Linked DNA regions of Homo sapiens. The protein of the gene in region 1 interacts with the protein of each later gene in a biochemical or structural test. Each region holds a gene or a part of one and is shown in the gene's direction. Other genes may lie near its edges.

Region 1 (8,392 bases):
TGTTAAGTCCGTCAGATTTTGGTGGTTTGAAAAGATCTTTGTTCTTTGATTTCCTCCAAATATTATTTGGATTTCTAGGTTTAGATTCAACATAGAAATATATCCATGATTGTTGTTTTTTACTATTGAGTATCCATGGTGTACTAGGTGTTTGGAATGGCAAGCTAGATTTCAGTACTGTTTTAGTCTCTTGAGATTTCTTTAAGATTTCTAGATTTTAAATTAGTATCATGAGTGAAGGTACTTATTAGGCAAAAATGGCTTCTAGGAAATGAGACCAAAATGAGACCTTCATCCCACTAATGAAGGTCTGAAAATAATTTTCTGGATGAAAGATGGGATTCAATAGATTTTTTTTTTTTTTTTTTGAGTCGGAGTCTCAGTTTGTCTCCCAGGATGGAGTATAGTGGCATGATCTTGGCTCACTGCAGCCTTGACCTCCCAGGCTCAAGTGATCCTCCTGCCTCAGCCTCTCGAAGTATTGGGATAACAGGTGTGAGCCACCACGCTTGGCCTCAGCAGAGATTTTGTTGAGGAAATAAAATCAACTTTGAAGATAGGAATTTGACTGTTTGGTTATGAATAGAGGTGTAGAGTCTGAAGTAGCACCTGTACTAGAAAAGGGGTTGGGAATTGAATGATTAACTAAACAATGTGGAATACTAGCTGTGTGGAATGCTGTGCAGCAGTTAAGAATAAGATGAATTGATAAGCACTGACATTTTTGGAAAGATCTTACTAAATGGAAAAAAGCTATAGAACAATGTGTGTAGTATGCCATTTATAAATAGATTTTAAGTTATATTTTTCTGTGTACATTTACATACAAAAGCATAGTGTCTCAGAAGAAAAGGTGTGGAAAGATAATACATCAAGTTTATAAGCATCTTTACCTCTGGAAAGCAATGTGGGAATTGAGGAACCATGAAGGTAGACTTTTGGTTTATATTCTCTTTGCTTCTGGATAGTTTAAATTTTTAGCCAAAGAATATATTTATGTGTTGGTTGTACAACTAAAAAATAAGTTTTATTACTGGAAAGGGATTGGGAACAGCTTGTGGGGGGCTGTAATCTACAAAAGCCATCTTCAGTACCAGGTTTAATTCCATCATTGTTTTTCGGGTTTTAGGTCTCTGGACTATTGTCCTTTAACAACAACAACAACAAAAATAAAAAAAAAAAAAAAAAAAAGAAGCAAAGGCTGTGGGATTCAGTAGGCTTTAAAGTAATTTTTTTTTTAATATCATTTTCAGCTGGCAGAGGCACAGCCATAGTTTCACTTCCAGTTTCTTTTGCAAGTTTCTATTTAGGGAACTTTAAATAATTTATCTCTAAGAAGTATCATGCCATTTCCTTTATACTGTCTCATTTAGGAAGCTCTGAGTGGGGAAGTATAGAGCAGGAGGGAAGATGTTAGACTAAGGTTCAGCTTGTATAGCTCCTGTATTTTTCTTGAGGAATTTTTTTTTGTTCTGCAGCTCTATATGAGATCAATGAACAGATATATATTCTGGGTTAATGACAAAACCTGGCATTTGGCCATTCACTTAGGAAAGTTAGCTCTGTGCATTAACTATTGGTTAAATCTTACACCCAGAAGCTGTTCTGCAGTTACCAGTCACACCGTTAACTCTAGCCAACATTTTACAAACGCAAGAAAATGTGCTTCTGGTGAGAGAAAACTGTAGGTGTATCATCGCAAGTCTATCACCATATTTTTATGGACCTTAAATATAAACTCAATTTTTACATCCCAATTTTAACAGCAGTTTGTTTTATTTTAAATAACTTTTGTTCATCACACATTTAGTGAAGAATATAATAAGAAAACATAAAATAAATGCCTCCTATTCATCCCTTGTTAACTGCTGTTAACATTTCACAAAGAAAAGGACAAGGACAATGAATTGAACAAAGGAGAGAAAAAAAAGTGGGCCATAGGGAATGTACAGTAAATAGGGAGTAAAGAAGCAGATATATAAACAGAATTATTAAGGCCAGGTGCAGTGGCTCACGCCTGTAATCCCAGCACTTTGGGAGGTCGAGGTGGATGGATCACCTGAGGTTAGGAGTTCAAGACCAGCCTGGCCAACGTGGTGAAATCTCATCTCTACTGAACATATAAAAATTAGCTGGGTGGGGTGGCACACACCTGTAATCCCAGCTACTCAGGAGGCTGAGGTGGGAGGATTTTTTTGAACCTGGGAGGCAGAGGTTGCAGTGAGCCAAGATCATACCACTGTACTCCAGCCTGGGCAACAGAGTGAGACTCCATCCTTAAAAAAAAAAAAAAAAGAAAGAAAGAAACAGAATTTTTTTTTTTTTTTTTGAGATGGAGTCTCGCTCTGTCACCCATCCTGGAGTGCAGTGGCACAATCTCAACTCACTGCAAGCTCCGCCTCCTGGGTTCACGCCATTCTCCTGCCGCAGCCTCCCGAGTAGCTGGGACTACAGGCGCCCGCCACCACGCCCAGCTATTTTTTTTTTTTATTTTTAGTAGAGACGGGGTTTCACCGTGTTAGCCAGGATGGTCTCGATCTCCTGACCTCGTGTTCCACCCACCTCGGCCTCCCAAAGTGCTGGGATTACAGGTGTGAGCCACCACACCCGGCCAGAAACAGAATTATTAAAGAATTCTCTATGTGGAAACTTTAAGAGCAACTGGTATGTAAAAGTTTTAAGATCTGGAAAGCTGGCCGGGCATGGTGGATCACGCCTGTAATCTCAGCACTTTGGGAGGCCGAGGCAGGTGGATCACGAGGTCAAGAGATCGAGACCATCCTGACCAACATGGTGAAACCCCATCTCGACTAAAAATACAAAAAATTAGCTGGGTGTGGTGGCGCACGCCTGTAGTCCCAGCTACTTAGGAGGCTGAGGCAGGAGAATCACTTGAACCCAGGAGGCAGAGGTTGCAGTGAGCCAAAACCACACCACTGCACTCTAGCCTGGCAAGAGTGAGACTCCATCTCCAAAAAAAAAAAAAAAGATCTGGAAAGCTCTGGTGGTGTATCTCATTTTAAAGCAAAGCATAATCTAAGACTGATAAGAAAAAAACAATAATGACATCTTTGCTGGTGTGACAGATGCCTCTAGTTATTAGATACTCTTAAGAGTTTTCTTAGGGGTCTAACTTGAGAGCAGAAGACAGTTAATTTCTTTCTCACATCCTTCATTCCTCAGCATACAGGGAATTCCTTGAAGATTTCTTTTGATAACTGGCTGTGTCATTCTAAAAGAAAAAAATACATAAAAAATTCAGTGCAGTTTTCTCACATCTGAGCTCTGATATTAAACCTTAAAGTTGTTGTAGGATTTATATGAACCAGAATTCTCTAATTGTGTATTTTGAATTATTACTTTAATGCTATAACAACACATGCTCACATTCCTATGTACTGTCAAAGGTTTAATGAATTTAGTGGTTTTTCTTCTAAAACCAGGTTTGACTTAATATGACTCCCACATTTATTGTATTAACAATAGTTTACTTCTTAGACATGAGTGGAAGTGCAAAGTAAAGTGCTTTACTAAAGTCAAAAATCAGCTGGGCATGGTGGCTCACACTTGTAGTCCCAACACTTTGGGAGGCCAAGGCGGACAGATTGCTTGAGCTTAGGAGTTCGAGACCAGCCTGGGCAACATGGCAAAACCCCATCTCTAGAAAAAGTATAAAAATTAGCTGGGTGTGGCAGTGCATGACTGTGGTCCCAGCTACTTGGGATGCTGAGGCAAGAGGATTGCCTGAGCCCAGGAGGTCGAGCCTGCAGTGAGCCAAGACTGTGCCACTGCACTCCAGCCTGGGCAACAGAGTAAAACCCTGTCTCAAAAAAAAAGTAAAAAATCTTGAGACAATAGTATATCTTACTTTATAGCCTACGGTTATTATATTACTTCTAAGATTTTAGTCAAAATTAAAGTATCAAAAAAGGTCTGAAATGGAAAGATATAGTCTATAGGGAAAGAAAGAAGCCCAAATTTTAAAATATGTTAGGATGATTGATAGGAGAGAATTTAAATCTGGTGAAACTTTAAAAAAGACTTCTCTGTTGCCTTCTTTATGTTCTTGACTGAAGCGATGTTTTCAGAGAGCTGAAAATATTCCATTCTTTTCCAGATTGCAAAAGTTGAGAAGCTCAAACCATTAGAGGTAGAGCTGCGACGCCTAGAAGACCTTTCAGAATCTATTGTTAATGATTTTGCCTACATGAAGAAGAGAGAAGAGGAGATGCGTGATACCAACGGTGAGGGGGAAGGCGACTCTTACTTCTTAAGTGACCCATAAATGAGACAGTCTCCAAACTTTCAATTCTGGTGTACCCTTTTCTCAGTTTTGCCAAGGTGGGTATATGGAGGGGAAATTGCTTGCTTCGCTGTTGTTGCTGCTAAAGGTAAATGAGCCTTGTTAGATTTTCAAGAGAGTAGAAACTCCTACTGTGATAGGCAGGTGACAACATCCTCAATTAGTCTATACCCACATCAAACTGATAGCACCAATCTTTGTAATTTTCAACATTTATATATAGGATAATGAACTTTTATTTTTATTTATTTACTTATTTTTGAGATGGAGTCTCGCTCTGTCGCTCAGGCTGGAGTACGGTGGTGCGATCTCGGCTCACTGCAACCTCCGCCTCCTGGGTTCAAGCAATTCTCCTGCCTCAGCCTCCCAAGTAGCTGGGACTATAGGCACAAGCCACCATGCCTGGCTAATTTTTCGTATTTTTAATAGAGACAGAGTTAGCCAGGATGGTCTCGATCTCCTGACTTCATGATCTGCCTGCCTCAGCCTCCCAGAGTGCTGGGATTACAGGCTGGGATTACACCATGCCCAGCCAGGATAATGAACTTAAAAAGAAAAATTATCTGAAATCCTACTGTTAGACCTAGGGACAGAGTGAAGTTAATTAATTGCCTTTACCCACCTCCCCTGCCATTGTTTAGCCAGCTGAGGAGGCTCACTTCATTATGTTTACAATGCTTTTGTTTTTTTTTAGAGTCAACAAACACTCGGGTCCTATACTTCAGCATCTTTTCAATGTTCTGTCTCATTGGACTAGCTACCTGGCAGGTCTTCTACCTGCGACGCTTCTTCAAGGCCAAGAAATTGATTGAGTAATGAATGAGGCATATTCTCCTCCCACCTTGTACCTCAGCCAGCAGAACATCGCTGGGACGTGCCTGGCCTAAGGCATCCTACCAACAGCACCATCAAGGCACGTTGGAGCTTTCTTGCCAGAACTGATCTCTTTTGGTGTGGGAGGACATGGGGTACCACCTACACCCAACAAGTCAATGAGGGACTTCTTTTTAATTTGGTAGGATTTTGACTGGTTTTGCAACAATAGGTCTATTATTAGAGTCACCTATGACAAAAAATAGGGGTTACCTAGATAATGCCAAAGTCAGCATTTGTCCTGGGTTCCCTTGTGTGATCTGTTTGGACTATGTTTTCTTTTCTTCTCCCACTTGCTCAGCAGCTTGGGCTTCCATTCTAGTTCTTTTACCAAGATTTTTGTGTGACCATGTTGACTTCATTTGGATTGCCCTCTTTCAATTTCCTTGTGAAAACACCCTTAACTTTCTCTTTACCCTTAGCTGAAATGTTTACATAGCTTCTGGTGATATCTTTTCATGATTTTATATCTCTTAAAATGGTGATGGATGTGACACCTCATAAAAGTGAGCTTTGAACTGTAGATAACTCTTAAAGAAAATGTCATTTTAGACAATTAAAATATTTGTGCTCAACTGCTTGAACTTTTTTCGTGTATGTGTATTTAATTCTATGCAATATTATCACATGTGTAGATTCATGTGACCACCATCACAAGAGACAGAACAGTTCTGTCACATGGATCCCTTGCACTGCCCTTTTACAGCCGCAGCCACATCCCTTTCTTATACCCTCACCCCAACCTGTGGCTACCACTGTTCTGTCCTCCATCTCTGTAATTTTGTCATTTCAAGAATGTTGTATGAATGGAATCATACAGAATGTAATCTTACGAGGCTGATCTTTTTTCATTCAGCATAATTCCCTTGAAATCCATCCAAGTTGTTGCATGTATGAATAGTTTCTTCCTTTTTTTCTTTTAAAAATGTTTTATATATTTAGGGGGTATAAGTACAGATTTCTTACATGCATATATTGCATCGTGGTGAAGTGGGGGCAGTTCCTTTTGATTGCTGAGTAGTATTCCATGGTATGGATGTACCACAGTTTGCTTAACCATTCACCCACTAAAGGACATAAGAGTTGTTTTCAGTTTTTTGCCCTAATAAAGCTGCTGTGAACATTCATGTACAGGTTTTTATGTGAACATACATTTTCATTTTCTGGGATAAATGCTCAAAAGGGCAACTGTTGGGTTGTATGGTAAACACATATATTTTTGTAAGAAACTACCCTACTCTTTTTCCAGAGTGGCTCTACTTTTTACATACAGCCACTCATACAATTCAGACAGCAATGTATGATTGATCCAGTTTCTTCACATCCTCACCAGCATTTGGTATTACTACTATTTTTTATCTTAACCATTCACATAGATGTGTGTAATGATACCACATGTGGTTTTAATTTGCATTTCCAATGGCTAATGATGTTGAGTATCTTTTTGTGTGCTAATTTGCCATCTATGTATCCTCTTCGGTGAAATGTCTTCATGTCTTTTGTCTATTTTCTATTTAGGTCATTTGTTCTTTTTACTATTGAGTTTTGAGAGGTTTTTTATATATCCTAGATAAAATTCCTCTGTTAGATATGTGGTTGCTTGAATTTTTAACATAACTTCTACCAAGGAAAAATAAGTAAAATTTCCAACCCTTGCATGGCCAGTCACTTACTTAATTCCTGTCCTTCAGTGTTCCATCTAGAGAATTAAGAGATATGATGTATAAAATAGACATCGAGGGCCATTAAGAGAGTAAATACTTAAAAATACATGTTATGAAAGCAAAGCCAATAATCACTGTAGGAGTATGAGTTGCCTAAGGGCCAAAACTAATGTAAATAAGAGAAAGTGTGGATATAAATGACCATTGTTTATAAACAGTTATGAAAAATGCTGTGACTTGAAATCTTTCCCACATCTCCCAAGAAAGTAGGTAGGAGTTTATCCTTTCCGTAATCTCTTTTTAACCCTGCTGACTATTACAGGGCTTGTTTAATCACAGTGGCAAGAATTACATGTATCTTACAGTAAAGAAACAGAATACTGGAATCGTTAGAGAACCCTGATGTGTTGACCTGGATAAAGTACAAAGGTGGAAGAGGGAATGAGTTATGCTGTTAAAATCTCAGGCTATTCTGTTAATGTTCCTGCTACTATGAACCCAAACTTTTTTTTTCCCCCTTTTGACTCCTTGTGTCTTCCTCTCCTGTGGCATAAAAGTAGTTCTGTCGTTAACTTGTACAACATTGCCATCTGCTGTTGAGAATTGGTAGGTACTGCTTCTGAGAACCTGGCTGCAGATCCTTAGCATAGGCAGCAAATGTTGAGAAAGTCTATCTGTAGTATTACATATACTAAGTTACAGAGGATGCATCCAAGTAGAGAAAATAATATGTGGGTTAAGATACATCCTTAAACTTTTTTTTTTTTGGGGGGGGGGGGACGGAGTCTTGCTGCAACGCCCAGGCTGGAGTGCAATGGCACTATCTCAGCTCGCTGCAACCTTCACCTCCTGGGTTCAAGCAATTCTCCTGCCTCAGCCTCCTGAGTAGCTGGGAATATAGGTGCACACCACCATGCCTGGCTAATTTTTGTATTTTCAGTAGAAGCAGAGTTTCACCATATTGGCCAGGTTGGTCTCGAACTCCTGACCTCAAGTGATCTGCCTGCCTCAGCCTCCCAAAGTGCTGGGATTACACGCGTGAGCCACCACACCCAGCCTCCATCTTTAAACTTTTAAATGTGAAATTTCTATCATGTACCGTTAGCCTAACAAGATTTTCTTTCCTATTTCTGACTGGTGCCTTTCCCCTTTTTAGGAGCAACGAAAGCTACTCTCTTAGTTATGTTCTTGTGATGTGACAAAATGTCAAGAAGATAGGAGAAGAGAATATTTTATTTCGTTGATGCTTTTGTTCCCAAGTGTGACCCTAAACTTAAGCTTTGTAGGAGTTGACATTCTTTCATGTCCCTTCCCTTTACTCATGCCGAAACTATCAACTGGGACATTTTGTGCTTTTGGTTTAAAAGTTAATTGATATTATACTTTGGTTTTATCTAAAAAGTAAATGTATTTGCCTTTGACAAAAGACTGACACAAGAGCAAATAAGCTTTAAAATCGGGTGTTATGTGCTTTCCTCCATTTTTGAGCATATTATCCAAAATGGTCTGTATAATATAAATGAGAATGATGCAGTTTAAGTAAGCCTTGTTA
Region 2 (7,779 bases), on another chromosome or scaffold:
AGACATGCTGGCTTATATGAAAACCCTCACCATGGTTCCTGCCTGGTACATAATAGACTCTTCATACCTGTTGACTCCATAGAGATTTAAAAAGAAGTTAAAATTTGTAATAGTAATTTATGGGGCAGAATTCAGAAATGAAGTAAAAAGCCTTGATTTTGGGAACTAGCAAGGAATGTTAAGATGATGATTTGAAAGTGGAAAATTGGAGCTGGGAGACCGAGGTGGGTGGATCACAAGGTCAGGAGAGGAGTTCGAGACCAGCCTGGCCAATATGGTGAAACCCTGTCTCTAAAAATACAAAAATTAGCTGGACATGGTGGCAGGCACCTGTAGTCCCCAGCTACTCGGGAGGCTGAGGCAGAATCCCTTGAACCTGGGAGGTGGAGGTTGCAGTGAGCCGAGATCACGCCACTGCCCTCCAGTCTGGGCGACAGAGCAAGACTCTGTCTCAAAAAAAAAAACAAGAAAGTAGAAAATTGGAGAGAGGAAGGGACTGATGACAGTGAAAACATTTTTGAGGAGATTGAAGAGAAGAGCCAGAGAACTCTGATCTTTTAAAGTAAGAGGTAAAGGTTGTTGCTGAAAATGAAGGAGGCGTGGGTAGAACAAGACTTGAAGTAGTCAATGACCCAAATTTGATAAAAATCCCCAAAAAAGATGAGTAAAAGCATTGTGAGGTGTTTTGTCTCAGGAAGTTGTCTCTGCTAGATCTTCTTTTTATATTCAAAAGTAACCTTAAATTTCTGTCCCATTCATGATCATCATAGAAGATCACAGCAATAAAGATTTGACAGTAACTCAACTTGCCAAATGAGCTTTTAGGTTGTGTTTAAGACCTGTTGAAGGGGAAATATATTTTAAATCAGTCTTTTCTCAGCATGCCTCCTAGAGAGAATTAAGCCCACTGCCCTAAGGATCATTGTATATATTGAATTAACTTTTCTCCTATAATGGCATTTTTTGGAGAATGGAGAAAATAGTTATTCAAATAATTATCTGTTCTGTAATTCAAAGGAAGAATTTGGCTTGAAAATGCTAGTATAAACTATTCATATTTTCTGACTTGAGAGAATGTTTTTATTTTTGTTTTAAATTTTTCCAATTTTCATTGTTTCTGTAATTTAAATCCATTAAAATATTTCAGACATTCCCATTTGATACCAAAGGCCATCATGCATAGGGATATAACCCTTATTGATCACACATTATGTTACCTAGCATTTACTAGTATTTTTGACAAGATAAATCTACCATTTTTCTCCAAAGAACTCAATATTATGCTTTATGGTTACTAGGACTTCATGAATAACACTTCTTCAGAATATTTCCTGATATGACACTATTGACCTGGGCACAAAATTGTGATTTGTGAATATTTAAAATTCATTGGCCGGGTGCGGGGGTTCACGCCTGTAATCCTAGCACTTTGGGAGGCCGAGGCGGGCGGATCACAAGGTCAGGAGATCGAAACCATCCTGGCTAACACGGTGAAACCCTGTCTCTACTGAAAATACAAAAAATTAGCTGGGCATGGTAGCATGCGCCTGTAGTCCCAGCTACTTGGGAGGCTGAGGCAGGAGAATCGCTTGAACCCGGGAAGCAGAGGTTTCAGTGAGCAGAGATCAGCGCCACTGCACTCCAGCCTGGACGACAGAGCGAGACTTCGCCACTGCACTCCAGCCTGGACGACAGAGCGAGACTTCGTCTCAAAAAGAAAAAAAGTAAATTTATTTACTAGATAATTCTATGAACTAGAGGTTCTCAAAATGTGGTCTGCGATTCCTTAAGAGTCCCTAAAACTCTTTCAGGAGGTCCACAAATTAAAATTATTTTCTTAACAGTGAGACGCTATTGGCACCTTTCACAATGTTGATATTTGCACTGATGGTGTAAAAGTAGTGGAAGGTAAAACTGCTAGTGAAGTGACACCAAATTGTACTGTTAGTATATTCTTCATTGTGACAGTTTTTTAAAAAGTCATTTTCACTTAAGAATGTCATTGATGAAACAGTAAAAATGTTATTACCTCTCCACACTTGAGTATGCATCTTTTAAATTCTGTGTGGTGAAATGGGGAGTATGCATAAAGCAGTTCTACTGCATACCGAAGTATCGTAGTTGTCTCAAGGGGAAACACTTGTAGCGTTTTTAAGTTGTGAGCTTTACTTGAAACAATGACTGAGAAACTCTGCTTATTCAGACTTGAATATTTGGTCGACATTTTTTAAAAACCTGAAAGAGGTTGGCTGGTCCCTGACAGTATTTCTTGCCAATGATAAAATTAAAGCTTTCAAGTGAAAGTTCGAATTTTGAAAAACTCACTGAACTTGATGGATTTCCAATGCTTAAAGGCTTATCAGTTGAAGTAGGTGGTGAAATTAGTGAATGTGTAATTTTTTTAATACAGTATCATGATGTTGTTAGCATCTAGAAGATGTGCATAATTCAGTGGACCAGCATTTTCCAAACGACCAATGCTTAATGGTAGAAAAACATGCATGAGAGAAAGATCCATTCAAAGTATGGACTTAACCAATGGATTTTAATGTAACGAAGTATAAACAGCTTATTGATACGGTTTCAGATTTTACCTTGCAAGTAGCCTTTAAGAAACTACCACTTCTCGAATTTCGAAGAATTTCAAGTAATGAAAAAACTATTAAGATACTCCTCACTTTCCAACTAGGTATCTGTGAGACCAGGCATTATTTTGTAGACATTAACCAAAACAACATATCACAACATATTGAAGGCAGAAGCAGATAATGAGAAACCATCTGTCTTCTGTTAAGTCAGATTATAAAGAGTTCTGCAAAAATGTAAAATATTGCCACTCTTTTCACTAAATTTTTTGAAAACATAGTTATTTTTCATAAAAACATGTTATTTTAATTAACATGTACTGGATTTATTTTTGTTATTTGAAAATGAATTAATATATAAATATTTTAAAGTTGTCTCAGGTTTAATTTTTAACATGGTAACATGCCAATAGCTAAAACTCACATAAACAAAAGCTCTTAGGGGTCCTCAAAGTGTTTAAGGACTATAAAGGAATCCTTAGAGCAAAAAGCTTGAAGACCACTGCTGTAAATCTTAAAATGTTGAATATTCTGATTTTTTTGATGTGTAAATGAAGAAATAAGTGCTTAGACTTGAAACTGTTTCAAAAGCTTAGCAAAGTAGTAGCTGAATTGTTTTGTAGGCCTATTCATGCACTTATTTAGTTAAAATCTCAAACATATTTTATTTGGCTTAGCAATTTAATTTTTTTAATGTTTCTTTTTAGCCTCTGCGACTTGATATCAAAAGAAAGCTAACTGCTAGATCTGATCGAGTTAAGAGTGTGGATCTGCATCCTACAGAGCCATGGATGTTGGCAAGTCTTTACAATGGCAGTGTGTGTGTTTGGAATCATGAAACACAGGTAGGAATTTTTCAGGACTGTATTAGAAATAAAATACTATGTGAGACTGTGTTTATAATGAAAGAGAAGAAATATTATAACAGAATCCAGAATCTATATGCAAACTGCTTTCTCAAGTTGGTACAAAGTATTTTAAATATGAAGGAACTAACATTTATGAGGGGATAGTTTGTAGGAGAAACTGTCCTGGGTATGTTATATACAATATTTAAATATAACAACTCTGACTTAGGTAGTATTAGCTCTTTTTTGAAATTGAGAAAACTGATGGTATTATAGAATCACTTGCTAAAGTATTTAATCGTTAGTTTTCCATTCAGTGAATACTCTATCTTAAGAATGATATCGTTAAATTTATTTTTCTCCCAGATGCCCAATATAATGATACACAGATAAATCTTTCACTCAGCCATATAGATTATATCAGGGAAATATTTATAGTCAGCTTTTGATTATACACACATCTTACAGATTGTCTGCCTGAATGCTTGACTCATTCTCTTTCACCTGAGTAAATAACATATCCTTCAAATTAGTTTGTCTCATATTTTCCAGTCTTCCTAGACTGTATTTAAGAGTACAAAGCATATAGTTAGCACTATACTATACAGTTGTGTCTACTTATATAGTAATTATCCTTAACGTCCAAAGTTAAGTTCTTGAAATCCAGGTAAAATTCGCATTTGAGGAATTTAAAATGGCAAAATGACATCAAGGAACCAAAGCCAGAAGTAAACCTAAAAACACCTTTATACTTTTATACTCACTGTAATGAAACAGAAATGACTGTACACTAAACTCATACCCTGTATTAGTCTGTTCTCACACTGCTGTAAAGAACTACCTGAGACTGGGTAATTTATGAAGGAAAGAGGTTTAATTGACTCACAGTTCCACAGGCTTAACAGGAAGCATGACTGGGAGGCCTCAGGAAACTTAAAATTTTGGCAGCAGGTGAAGGGGAAGCAAGCACCTTCTTCACATGATGGCAGGAGAGAGAGAGCAAAGTGGGAAGTGCCACACACTTTTAAACCATCAGATCTCATGAGAAGTCACTATCACGAGAACGGCAAGGGGGAAATCCACCCCCATGATCCAATCACCTCCCACCAGGGTCCTCCTCCAATTTGACATGAGATTTGGGTGGGGATACAAATCCAAACCATATCATAGTCCATCAGTGACATTTTATATAAATTAACATTTTGTTTTCTGCTGTATCTCAGTACCTATAACATTACCTGGCACATAGTAAATGCTCAATAATTATTTGTTCAACCAATGAATAATATGCATTTCACTTATCACTAGTTCAGTATTTGTGTTCTCTACAATTTCAGATCTTTATCTTGTGAATTGTTTTTGCTTTGATGCAAATAACTTTTTTTTTTTGCTTTTTGTTTAGTTCTTGAGATGTTTAAAATATTTCTGATTTTATGTTTAACAGATACGTTGGTGTCCTCTCTCTCTGATTATTCCTAGGGATTCCCTCTTATCAGCTACATTTACCTATCTCAGCTCTATCACTTGATCATCGTATGTTCTAAAGCCCAGGCGTACTTTTCTTATCTTTCTCTAGGCTTTATTGTAATATATCTCTGCTTTATCTGCATTTCCACTTTGCCTCCTTTTTCTCTTCTATACCTTTTTCTGCCCTATGACAGGACCATCTGCTTCCCCTTTCATAATTCATCTCAGTGGTAATTTCATGTTTAATTTCCTTCTTTCCTCTAAGAATGGAGGTTCTGTGAGGACAAGGATTACCCTCATCTTATTTCCCACTGTTGGTCCAGTGCATGAGGCACTACCTGATACACTGTCAGGCTCCTGGTAGATAGTAAGTCTTTGTTGAATGATTAATCTGTCTTTGATTCTCCCTGTTTTTTCCCTGTGTTTATATCACCAACAGCATTTACCACTCCTATATTGAGAGCAAATTCTTGAGAGAGCCAAAAAGGTTTTTGGAAGTAAAAAGGTTTTTAGATGTACTTGAATTTCAAATAAGGAGATGCTATATATTCTTTGAGGTGGTACATGCAGTGGTTTAAAAAACATAGTATTTTAGGATTTGAAGCCAACTTGCTGATTAAATTATATAGGCAAGCCTTTTAACCATGCTGAGCCTCTTTATTTATCTGAAGTGAAGATGATATTATTGCCTTGCCTACATCACAGGATTGTCAAAAAGATAAAATAAAATTAGATAAAATTGTGTATGAAACCTATAAAGTACCATATAAGTATTAGTCATTAGTTATACTTTCCTAATCTACGTTGAGTATTTGTATGTATTGTGTGTGTAGCTTTTCTTACTCTTTATTTGCATCAGTCATAGCCCCTAACATGGCGTTGAACCTTGGCTATTTCTTCTGCAGCTGCTTTATTTTTACTGCTCAGCAGATCCCTGGATTTGTTGGCTCCTCATGAGCTTTTGTGGATTTTTCTGCCGTGTTATAGATCGCATGTTGTGTCTACTCTCAGTTTCTGTATCATAGTCAGCTGGTAGTGATTCTACAGGTTAGAGTTGAAGTGCCTACTCATTCAGCCTTTGTCTAAAGAATCTTTGAACTCTGGCTTGAAAAGTCAGAGTAGGACAGTTCTTATGAACCGGTCCCTATTACTTTTTTAGTGCACATGGTTAATCAATCAGTAAGATTATATTGTGTTTCTTAGTTATTTCATTTTTGCTCTCTGATACAAAAAAGGATTAGAAAATGATAGTTTGACTTTCAGACTTTTAAGAACAGGCATCAAAGAAGGAGAACAAAGAGGTACCATGATCTCTGCTCTTTCTAGGAGGGTCTCTACCTTTATCCTATGTGTATAATTCCATTCTGAGCAGCTCGGAGGAACATATAAGTCACGGTGTTTTCATATTTTATTAAAAAGAAATAATAACATTTGTATGGAATCATATTGCTAAAGCATGCAAAAGAATTGTACCTTATTCATGAGTCACTTTTATGGGTTTCAATTTCAAAAAGACTGACTAGGTGCAGTGGCTCACGCCTGTAATCCCAGCACTTGGGAGGCTGAGACGGGTGGATCACTTGAGGCCAGGAGTTCGAGACTACCCTGGCCAACATGGTGAAACCCCGTCTGTACGAAAAATACAAAAATTTGCTTGGCATGGTGGTGCACACCTGTAATCCCAGCTACTTGGGTAACTGAAGCATGAGAATCACTTGAACCTGGGAGGCGGAGGTCGCAGTGAGCCAAGATTGTGCCACTGTACTGCACTTCAGCCTGGGTGACAGAGTAAGACTGTCTCAAAAAAAAAAAAAAAAAAAAAAAGAAAAGAAAAAAAGAAACTAAGAGCTAATTCATTCAACAAATATTTATTACACACTACTTGTGTGCCAGCCACTGTTCTATCCTCTGCCTATACAGTGTGAAAAATATTCCTGCCTTTGGAGAGCTTAGCAGGAAAGATTGGCACTAAACATAATTATGAGGTGCTACATTATGAAAGGGAAGTACAAGTTTCCATGGGTGGATTTTCAAGTCAGAGACAACAAGAGCAGAGGTGAGGCTGGGAGTAGCCAAAGGTGAGGCTGGAAAAGGGAGGGAAGGGCTGGAGCACAGAGGATCTGGAATACCATCTTGTGGATATTTGCCTTCTCTTATCTTTTAAAAAGTGTTTTAATTTCGAATCTATTAAAAGATAGTTGGTCTTTTTTAAAAATTTGAATGTTGAGCTTTTATATTTTAGCCTGAGAATATACTAAAATGAGAAGTGATCTTAAAAATTGGATGTTTGAAATATAACAGAGTAGATTTTGTGGTTATTTTCTTATAGCTCAATTTGTGTATTCTTGTTACATTTTAAAGACACTGGTGAAGACATTTGAAGTATGTGATCTTCCTGTTCGAGCTGCAAAGTTTGTTGCAAGGAAGAATTGGGTTGTGACAGGAGCGGTAAGTAATTAATATGAATCTCTATTCCCATTTTCTGAATTGGTCAATGATTGTGTAAATTTGTTGCAGGATTTTGATTCCCGATTTGTTTTGTTATTTACAGCAATGTTTTGAGGCATAGACTTTATTCCTTGAGCCTGTGATATAGTTTTTTTGTATAATTTACTTGATAACAGGGATGATGGTTTTAAAATTTCTGTTTCTAGGATGACATGCAGATTAGAGTGTTCAATTACAATACTCTGGAGAGAGTTCATATGTTTGAAGCACACTCAGACTACATTCGCTGTATTGCTGTTCATCCAACCCAGCCTTTCATTCTAACTAGCAGTGGTAAGAGATGACCTTTTTTGGTCATGTGCGTCTCTTTGGGTAATTCATTTTCATTCACTGAGACATGCTATGCTTTAACTGCTGTTACAAATATAATT
Region 3 (7,779 bases), on another chromosome or scaffold:
ATATAAAGTTTACAATTCAGTGAGCAACCTTCCTATTCTTTATTTTTAATTTCTTTTCATGCCCCCACTGGACAGATTTTCTTCTTTCAGCAATAAATGATCTTTAAGTAATTGTTCCCTTTCTCATTTTTATTATTCTGAGCCTTAACTGCAAATTGACGCCATTTGGATATGGAAGGTGAGGAGCTTTACATTATAGCCAGCTTCTGTGACCTCATCATGGTTAATTTGAAATTAGCTCCTGGAACCTTAGAATGGGAGCTACTAATCCCATCTGGCGCCCTTCTCCATTAAATAGATAAGGAAGTTGAGGCCTGGGATGGTGCCAAGATCCACCCAAAGCCACTCACTCTGTTGGTAGTGACTTTGGGCCTCCTGGCTTGAGACTTCTTGCCTCTGGGGCTCTTCTGCCTGAAGACCCATTCTGAGTGCTGGAAGTGCCCAAACAGTGAGTTGTCAGGGTGCATTGGGTAAATCACATTCGCTTCCTAAACACAGGTGCTGTGAGTGCTCTGGCGAAGTTTGGAGCCCAGAATGAAGAGATGTTACCCAGTATCTTGGTGTTGCTGAAGAGGTGAGTCTAGGCCCAGGGGCCCTAATGGGGACAGTGTTCCCTTGGACCCAAGCAGCTTTCCTTTGTCTTTATTTTTTTTTAACTGAAAAGGGAGAGAAAAGTTATACAGCTACTGATTGTAGAAAAAAAAGAGAAAGCATAGAAAAGCATGAAAAACAATGCTGTGCAAATTGCACCAACCAGATGTGACAATTGGTAACTTGAATTATTTTGTCCATTTTTTAAAAATAGCTCTATTGAAGCCGGGCATAGTGGCTCCCGCCTGTAATCCCAGCACTTTGGGAGGCCAAGGCGGGCGGATCACAAGGTCAGGAGATTGAGACCGTCCTGGCTAACACGCTGAAACCCCGTCTCTACTACAAATATAAAAAATTAGCCAGGTGTGGTGGCGGGTGCCTGTAGTCCCAGCTACTTGGGAGGCTGAGGCAGGAGAATGGTGTGAACCTGGGAGATGGAGCTTGCAGTGAGCCGAGATCATGCCCCGCATTCCAGCCTGGGTGACAGAGCGAGACTCCAGCTCAAAAAAAAAATAGCTCTATTGAGATATAATTCACATACCATACAATTTACCCATTTAAGATGTGTAGTTTGATGGGTTTTAGCATATTCACAGAGTGATGGAACCATCACCACAACCTGAGTTTAAAACATTTCATCACCCCAAAGGGAACTCAGTGTTCATGAGTGTGGCCTCTCCTCACTCCCTCCACCCTCCGCCTGGGGCCACCACTAGTCTACTTGTTATCCCTATGGACTTACCTCTAATGAAGCCATGCAGGATCCCTCCTGCCATCCCTGCTGGGTCCCAGTCAGGACCACCTTGTGTCCTGGCTGCAGGTGTGTGATGGATGATGACAATGAAGTAAGGGACCGAGCCACCTTCTACCTAAATGTCCTGGAGCAGAAGCAGAAGGCCCTTAATGCAGGCTATATCCTAAATGGTGAGTCATTCCCTGGCTATCTTGGACTCAGCACCTTACTGGAGCTGTGGTTCTCATCACTCCCTGGGCAGGGGAAATCAGAGGCAAGATGCTCTTGGCTGGACTTGCCTGGCAACCTCATGGCATCATGGTGACCTCAGGAGGTCCCGGGTCATTCAGGTCACACCTGAATTGGGTGGAAATTGTCCAGTGAATTGAAACGCTCATCATTAATAAAAACTTTATTTTTACAGTACTTTACCCTTTACAAGTCACTTTGTATATATGTTTATTCCCCACACCTACCCTGTAAGGGAGGATGTGTCTGAGAATGCAGAGGCTTAGAGAATAAAGTGATTTTCTCAGGGTCATACTACTTAGGACTTGTAACTTCGGGACCCCAGGGCCTCCATGGTGGTCCCTGGTGCACATTTTGCTCTATCTGCCAGGCATGGTGACCTCTCTTCACCTCCAGGTCTGACTGTGTCCATCCCTGGTCTGGAGAGGGCTCTGCAGCAGTACACTCTAGAACCATCAGAAAAACCTTTTGACCTCAAGTCTGTGCCCCTGGCCACGGCGCCCATGGCAGAGCAGAGAACAGGTAACACTTATACTCCTCCCAGAGGCCATCAAGGCCAGGCCTCTGTTGGAGGGTCTGCATTGGCTGCAAAGCCACTAACCTAACTAGGGTGGGTGGCAGTTATGCTGGGAGGAGGAAATGATCTTTTCCACCTCTGGCTCCAGAAAATAGAGACACACATACACACAGACGTGGGCTCTCTCACATGTCTTCTGCTTCCCACTCTCAGGAGGGTTAGTATTTATAATCCCTGAGTAATAGCACTGGGGTCACCACCACACTGCCCCGTGACTCCAGCTGTTGGTCATCACGTGTATAATTTGCTCCTGCAGAAAGTACCCCCATCACAGCAGTCAAACAGCCTGAGAAAGTGGCAGCTACCAGGCAGGAGATCTTCCAGGGTGAGTCACAGTGGTTGGGGGATGCTTGGGACCTGGGCTTAGTTTCCTCAGGGGGTTCAAGAGTAAGAACTGTCATATATTGGTCTCTCCTGAGTGCTAGGCCCTTGAGATGCTTTAGACCTACTATCACATTTGACCCTCAGGTGGTGGTTGTTGGGTTCCTTCAATATCTGAGGAATTGGAAGTTCAGAGAGAGAAAGTAGTAGGAGGGGCTGGAATTAAGGTCCCGATCAAACTGGCTCAGTGCTGTTACTGGGCCTCAATTTGGAGGGCTCGGGTCCCTGGAGCCCAGGCCAGTTCAGAATGTCTGAGAGAGCAGTGCTGGGATTCAAAGACACTGGTACTTTTTGTCGGGTTCCACGTGTGTTCTGTCCACATTGTCTTGTAAGGTTTTCTTCAGGTATCCATCTGTCCTCTGGTGTTGCATTTTTAAGGGGAGAGGCTGTGTGTCTAATTGCAGATTGTTTTATCCACTGAATTCAGTAGATAAAAGCATAGACCCCTCTTCCTTCATGGGCCCTCACTTCCATCCTAGCTCTTCTGTCTTCTCTTAAACAGCCCTCTGTGCTAAATAGTTCTTCACATGTTCTGTCTTTTATTTTCTGCGTCTATCACAGCACTGAGCCCAGTGCCTTCCTTCCTCACAGTAGGCTCCCAATTAATGTTGAATTAAATGAAATCCCCCCTTCCCCATTACACTCAGAATCATGTCTTATATCAATATAGCATGGATCCTGAGCTAATTGGGATCGCTATAACATGAAACTTTCCATTTATATCAGTTTTCTATTGCTGCTGTAACACGTTACCACAAACTTAGTGGCTTAACACATTTATAACCTTATAGCTCTGCGGTCAGAAGTCCAAAGTGGGTTTCATTTGTTAGCAGTGCTGAGTTCTTTCAGGAGGCTCCAGGTATTGCCCCCTTGCCTTTTCCAGCTACTAGAGGTGGCCCGTATCCTTGGCTCGTGGCCCCTTCCACCGTCTTTAAGGGCCCTTCTAGGGCAGAAGGTCAGAGTAGAGTGATTTGAAGAGGCCACACTCCTGGCCTTTTCAAATCTCTCTACTCTGACCTTCTGCCCTAGAAGGGCCCTTATGATTACACTGGCCCCCCCTGGATAATCCAGGATAACCCCTAGCTCAAGATCCTTAATTTAATCACATCTACAAAGTCCCTTTTACCATGCAAGGTAACATAGCTGCAGGTTCTGGGAATTAGCATGTGGGCATCTTGGAGTCATTATTCTGCCACACCTTCCAAGGAAGTCTCCTAAGCCGCTTAAAGGGTAACAATTCCATTTTTAAACAATCATCCAAAAGCCTCACATTTACTAATCACATACATGTTCAGTTCCAAGAACTTTCCTAGATCTTGAATTTATTGCCTCATTTGTCTTTACAACAACGCTGTGATCAAGATAATGATATCAGTTTTATTGATGAAGAGTCTGAAACCCTACCAACAGAATCCCCCAGGGAGTAAGTATCAGGCCCAAAACTCTGAGTCCCAAGAAAATAAATATCAATAGAAAAGCACTCTAGTGGTTGATGGTCATGGTGGCCCAAAAGTTCCTCCTAATATCTAGCCTGGATTGTTCTGGGCTTTTTATTGCCTGCATATTCATTAGATTCAGTCTTCAGGCTGCAGAGGGCTGAAGTGGTCACATAGGCTGACTTTTTGTGGAGGAAAAAAGCAAAATAATAAAAATAAGGCCTACCTTTCTCTATGTCTGAAACGTGAATTGAGTACCTTCTAAGTAAAGGGAAAAATATCAGATCCATGGCCTCAAAGCACAATCCCTGTTCTCATGGAGTTCAATTAATTGGGAAGACAAGTTGAAAATCTTAGAGCAGTGGTCTTTAAATATCAGTATATATTGGAATAATCTGAGGAAACATGTTAGAAATGCAAATTCCTTGATCCTGAAACCAGAGATTCTGATGTAGTAGATTTGGGATGGAGTCTGAGTTTTTAGCAAGCTCTGCCGCCAACCCCTAGTAATTCTGATACAGTTGATCCATGGTCATAGTGCGAGGAATCCTGCCATAGAATAGGTACAAGAGTGGCAGCTGTAGCCATTATAGGTGGACACCATGTGCACACATCTGCCAGATGCCTCATTCACTTGGGTTATTCCCTTTAGTTTGCAAGGAATGCCAGGACCAGCCAGGGTGGGGTCCCATGGGCCTGTGCTTGAATCCAGTGCTTGAACCTGGGCATAGGGTGTAGGGATAGGTCTTACCAGACACAAACAATTCTAAGTTAGGTTTTCTGCAACACTCTCATTCTGAAATATCTCTTTATTGGCCATTTGTCTTAACTGATAAATATATAGGACCAGTTTGTTATTTTGTCTGATTTTGTAGCTATAGCAGTATCGATCTTATTTTCCTAATTGTCACCTTCTTTTAAGAATCCTTGCTGCGGTAGGGGGCGGAAATCCTTGCTAAGCTTCTATAGCTGGGGGATTCTCCAATTAGGTCTAGGATTTTGTGGTCTCATATCAGTTTTTTGCTTCTGAGGTCTTTCATGGTACAGAGATGGGGAGAGTATTTGTGGGGGGTTGTGCCACATGAGCGAAGTCAGGGAGATGAGAAAATGCATGGATATATTCAGGAAATAATGAGTAGCCAGTTGGGTAAACATATCTATCCATCTAAGGTAGGGTGGAACACCTTGAGAATGGTCATGGGAATTTATTAGAAACCATCAACAAGTTGGTCTGGGGATCGAGAAGCTGAGTGAATGTGGCCTGTGGATTTCAGAGCAGTTGGCAGCAGTGCCAGAGTTCCGCGGTCTTGGGCCCCTCTTCAAGTCCTCGCCTGAGCCCGTGGCCCTCACCGAGTCAGAGACGGAGTATGTCATCCGCTGCACCAAACACACCTTCACCAACCACATGGTTTTTCAGGTGAGCAAGGTGGGCTGAGGCCCTGCTGGGGCATGCGCCCAGGGAGTTGTCCCAGGTCTGGCAGGTCCTGTAGGGTCATGGGTCCCCACACTGCATTGGTTGGGAGCCCAACTTGATGACAGAATCTGTCCCCAACAGGTCGGTCTCTCATATCTCTTGACTCGGGACATCCATGGCTCCCGATTGTCAGCATGAAGACAGGGAACCTGGGGCAGGGGGACTGGGATGGGAATCACCTTGGTCAATAGGAAAGAGGTGGGACCTCCTGGCTTTTCCTCTGCAGCATGGCTCGGACCTAGTGCAATGTTTAAGCTCCCCTCTCTTTCCTGTTCAGTTTGACTGCACAAACACACTCAATGACCAGACCTTGGAGAATGTCACAGTGCAGATGGAGCCCACTGAGGCCTATGAGGTGCTCTGTTACGTGCCTGCCCGGAGCCTGCCCTACAACCAGCCCGGGACCTGCTACACACTGGTGGCACTGCCCAAAGAAGACCCCACAGCTGGTGAGCCCCTCTCCAGATACCACCCTATCCTCCTGGGAGCTCATGGGGTCAGGAGGAGGTGGGCGGCTGGGCACCAGCTGTTTGCCTTCTATTAGAGCTTCAGCTCCTTGATTTCAGTCCCAAGAAGAAGAATAGCTGAGTCCCAAGTGCTCTTCTTTAAAAATTTTTTTTTTTAAAGAGACAGGATCTCACTAGAACTCATGACTTTCCTGTCCTACAAGGTGGCACCCTCTGTCCAGCTTTGTGGGATTGGATGGCTTGTTGCTGCTACTAATAACATAGCAGGGGCCTAGAAAGCAGGCTGTGACCCCTGCCTGCTTGTCCCCTGCAGGAGGAGCCCATCCCCTGCAGGCTGGGGACATCCTAACTACCCAGCCTCTCTTCCCCACAGTGGCCTGCACATTCAGCTGCATGATGAAGTTCACTGTCAAGGACTGTGATCCCACCACTGGGGAGACTGATGACGAAGGCTATGAGGATGAGTATGTGGTAAGATCCTGGTGTCAGGAAGCTCAGTTTTGTGCTGAGGCTGCAAAGCAACTCCCTTCAGGAACTGACAGTGAGACTGGAGCTGTTTTTGGCTTTTTAGCTCTTTAAAATTTTATTTTTTTATTTTTATTTTTTGAGATGAAGTTTCTCTTTTGTTACCCAGGCTGGAGTGCAGTGGCGCGATCTCGGCTCACTGCAACCTCTGTCTCCCTGGTCCAAGCGATTCTCTTGCCTCAGCCTCCCAAGTAGCTGGGATTACAGGCGCCCACCACCATGCCTGCCAAATTTTTTGTATTTTTGGTAGAGATAGGGTTTCACCATGTTGGCTAGGCTGGTCGCGATCTCCTCACCTCAGGTGATCCACCTACCTTGGCCTCCCAAAGTGTTGGGATTACAGGCGTGAGCCACCGCGCCCGGCCTAAAATAACTTTTTAAACTTATGGAAATACATGTTCATGTGTAAAAAGAAAACTTGGGAAATACAAAAACAAAATTCAAAACAAAGTATGAACAACAGGAAAACATTACTCATAATCCTTAGAGTTATTTTTGGGGGGAAGTGGTATAATTGAAATCATTCTTACAGTGTAGACCTTGCTATTTTAAAACCATAGTGTATTTTCCAGTATCATTACAAATACTTCATAAACACAATTTTTTTAGTGGATTTAAAATACTGTTATATACTATGTCAAAACTTGATTGACTTTTCACTCCTTTAATGTTGGGCATTTGGGTTTCCATATTTTCACTATTTATATTGCTGCATTAAATATCCCTTTAGATACAAATTTTTATCTGCATTTTAGATTATTTCTTTAGGATAGATTCCTAGAAGGAGAATAGTTGGGTCAAAGGGTAAGCATGATTTTAAGACATTTTGATTCCTCTTGTCAAATGCTTTCTGGATAAATTTGACCTGTTTGCTGTGCTGGGCAGTCCTTTCATGCACTGGAATAGCCCTTCTAAATTCTCCTATCTTAGCTCGGTGGAACTAAGTACAGGATCCTTCTGAGGTCTGACTTTGGGGCAGTGGCTCAGGGCCATCTGAGTGCAGACCATTATGCTCAGCCTGTGGATGGGGACTGTTAGAACTCCTCCTGACTAGAGGGACAGTCACAGTGGAATACAACTGACATTCGCCATTGTGTCATCCTAGAGTCACAGTTGAGGATGGATGGACCTTCCTTGAGCTGGAAATGACCCCGAGGCAGGAGCTGCTCTAAGACCAAGTGAGCTCCTTGAGAGAGCTGGGTCTGTTTGAGCCCATCCAGAGATGAAGAAAAAAAAAAAAGAGAGAGAGAGCTGGGTCTAAGTTGTATTTATATACACTGTAAACATCCACAGGAGTAGGGCCTCAGTGAAAATCTGATGGGAGAATGAATGGGGAACCTTCATGT

The links.
Region 2: the proteins of TMED10 (region 1) and COPB2 form a complex in vitro, tested with the Homo sapiens proteins (one study listed by BioGRID).
Region 3: the proteins of TMED10 (region 1) and COPG1 form a complex in vitro, tested with the Homo sapiens proteins (2 studies listed by BioGRID).

Annotation. Positions count from the first base shown.
Region 1 is NC_000014.9:75,131,612-75,140,003, reverse strand, and holds part of TMED10 (transmembrane emp24 domain-containing protein 10 precursor), read left to right. Parts: intron 1-4,117; coding exon 4,118-4,244; intron 4,245-4,997; coding exon 4,998-5,119; 3' UTR 5,120-8,392. UniProt on the Homo sapiens protein: Cargo receptor involved in protein vesicular trafficking and quality control in the endoplasmic reticulum (ER) and Golgi.
Region 2 is NC_000003.12:139,378,949-139,386,727, reverse strand, and holds part of COPB2 (coatomer subunit beta'), read left to right. Parts: intron 1-1,298; exon of another isoform or gene 1,299-1,724; intron 1,725-3,292; coding exon 3,293-3,430; intron 3,431-7,261; coding exon 7,262-7,348; intron 7,349-7,554; coding exon 7,555-7,681; intron 7,682-7,779. UniProt on the Homo sapiens protein: The coatomer is a cytosolic protein complex that binds to dilysine motifs and reversibly associates with Golgi non-clathrin-coated vesicles, which further mediate biosynthetic protein transport from the ER, via the Golgi up to the trans Golgi network.
Region 3 is NC_000003.12:129,266,526-129,274,304, forward strand, and holds part of COPG1 (coatomer subunit gamma-1), read left to right. Parts: intron 1-498; coding exon 499-574; intron 575-1,411; coding exon 1,412-1,515; intron 1,516-1,969; coding exon 1,970-2,095; intron 2,096-2,406; coding exon 2,407-2,475; intron 2,476-5,241; coding exon 5,242-5,384; intron 5,385-5,620; exon of another isoform or gene 5,621-5,718; coding exon 5,719-5,890; intron 5,891-6,281; coding exon 6,282-6,379; intron 6,380-7,779. UniProt on the Homo sapiens protein: The coatomer is a cytosolic protein complex that binds to dilysine motifs and reversibly associates with Golgi non-clathrin-coated vesicles, which further mediate biosynthetic protein transport from the ER, via the Golgi up to the trans Golgi network.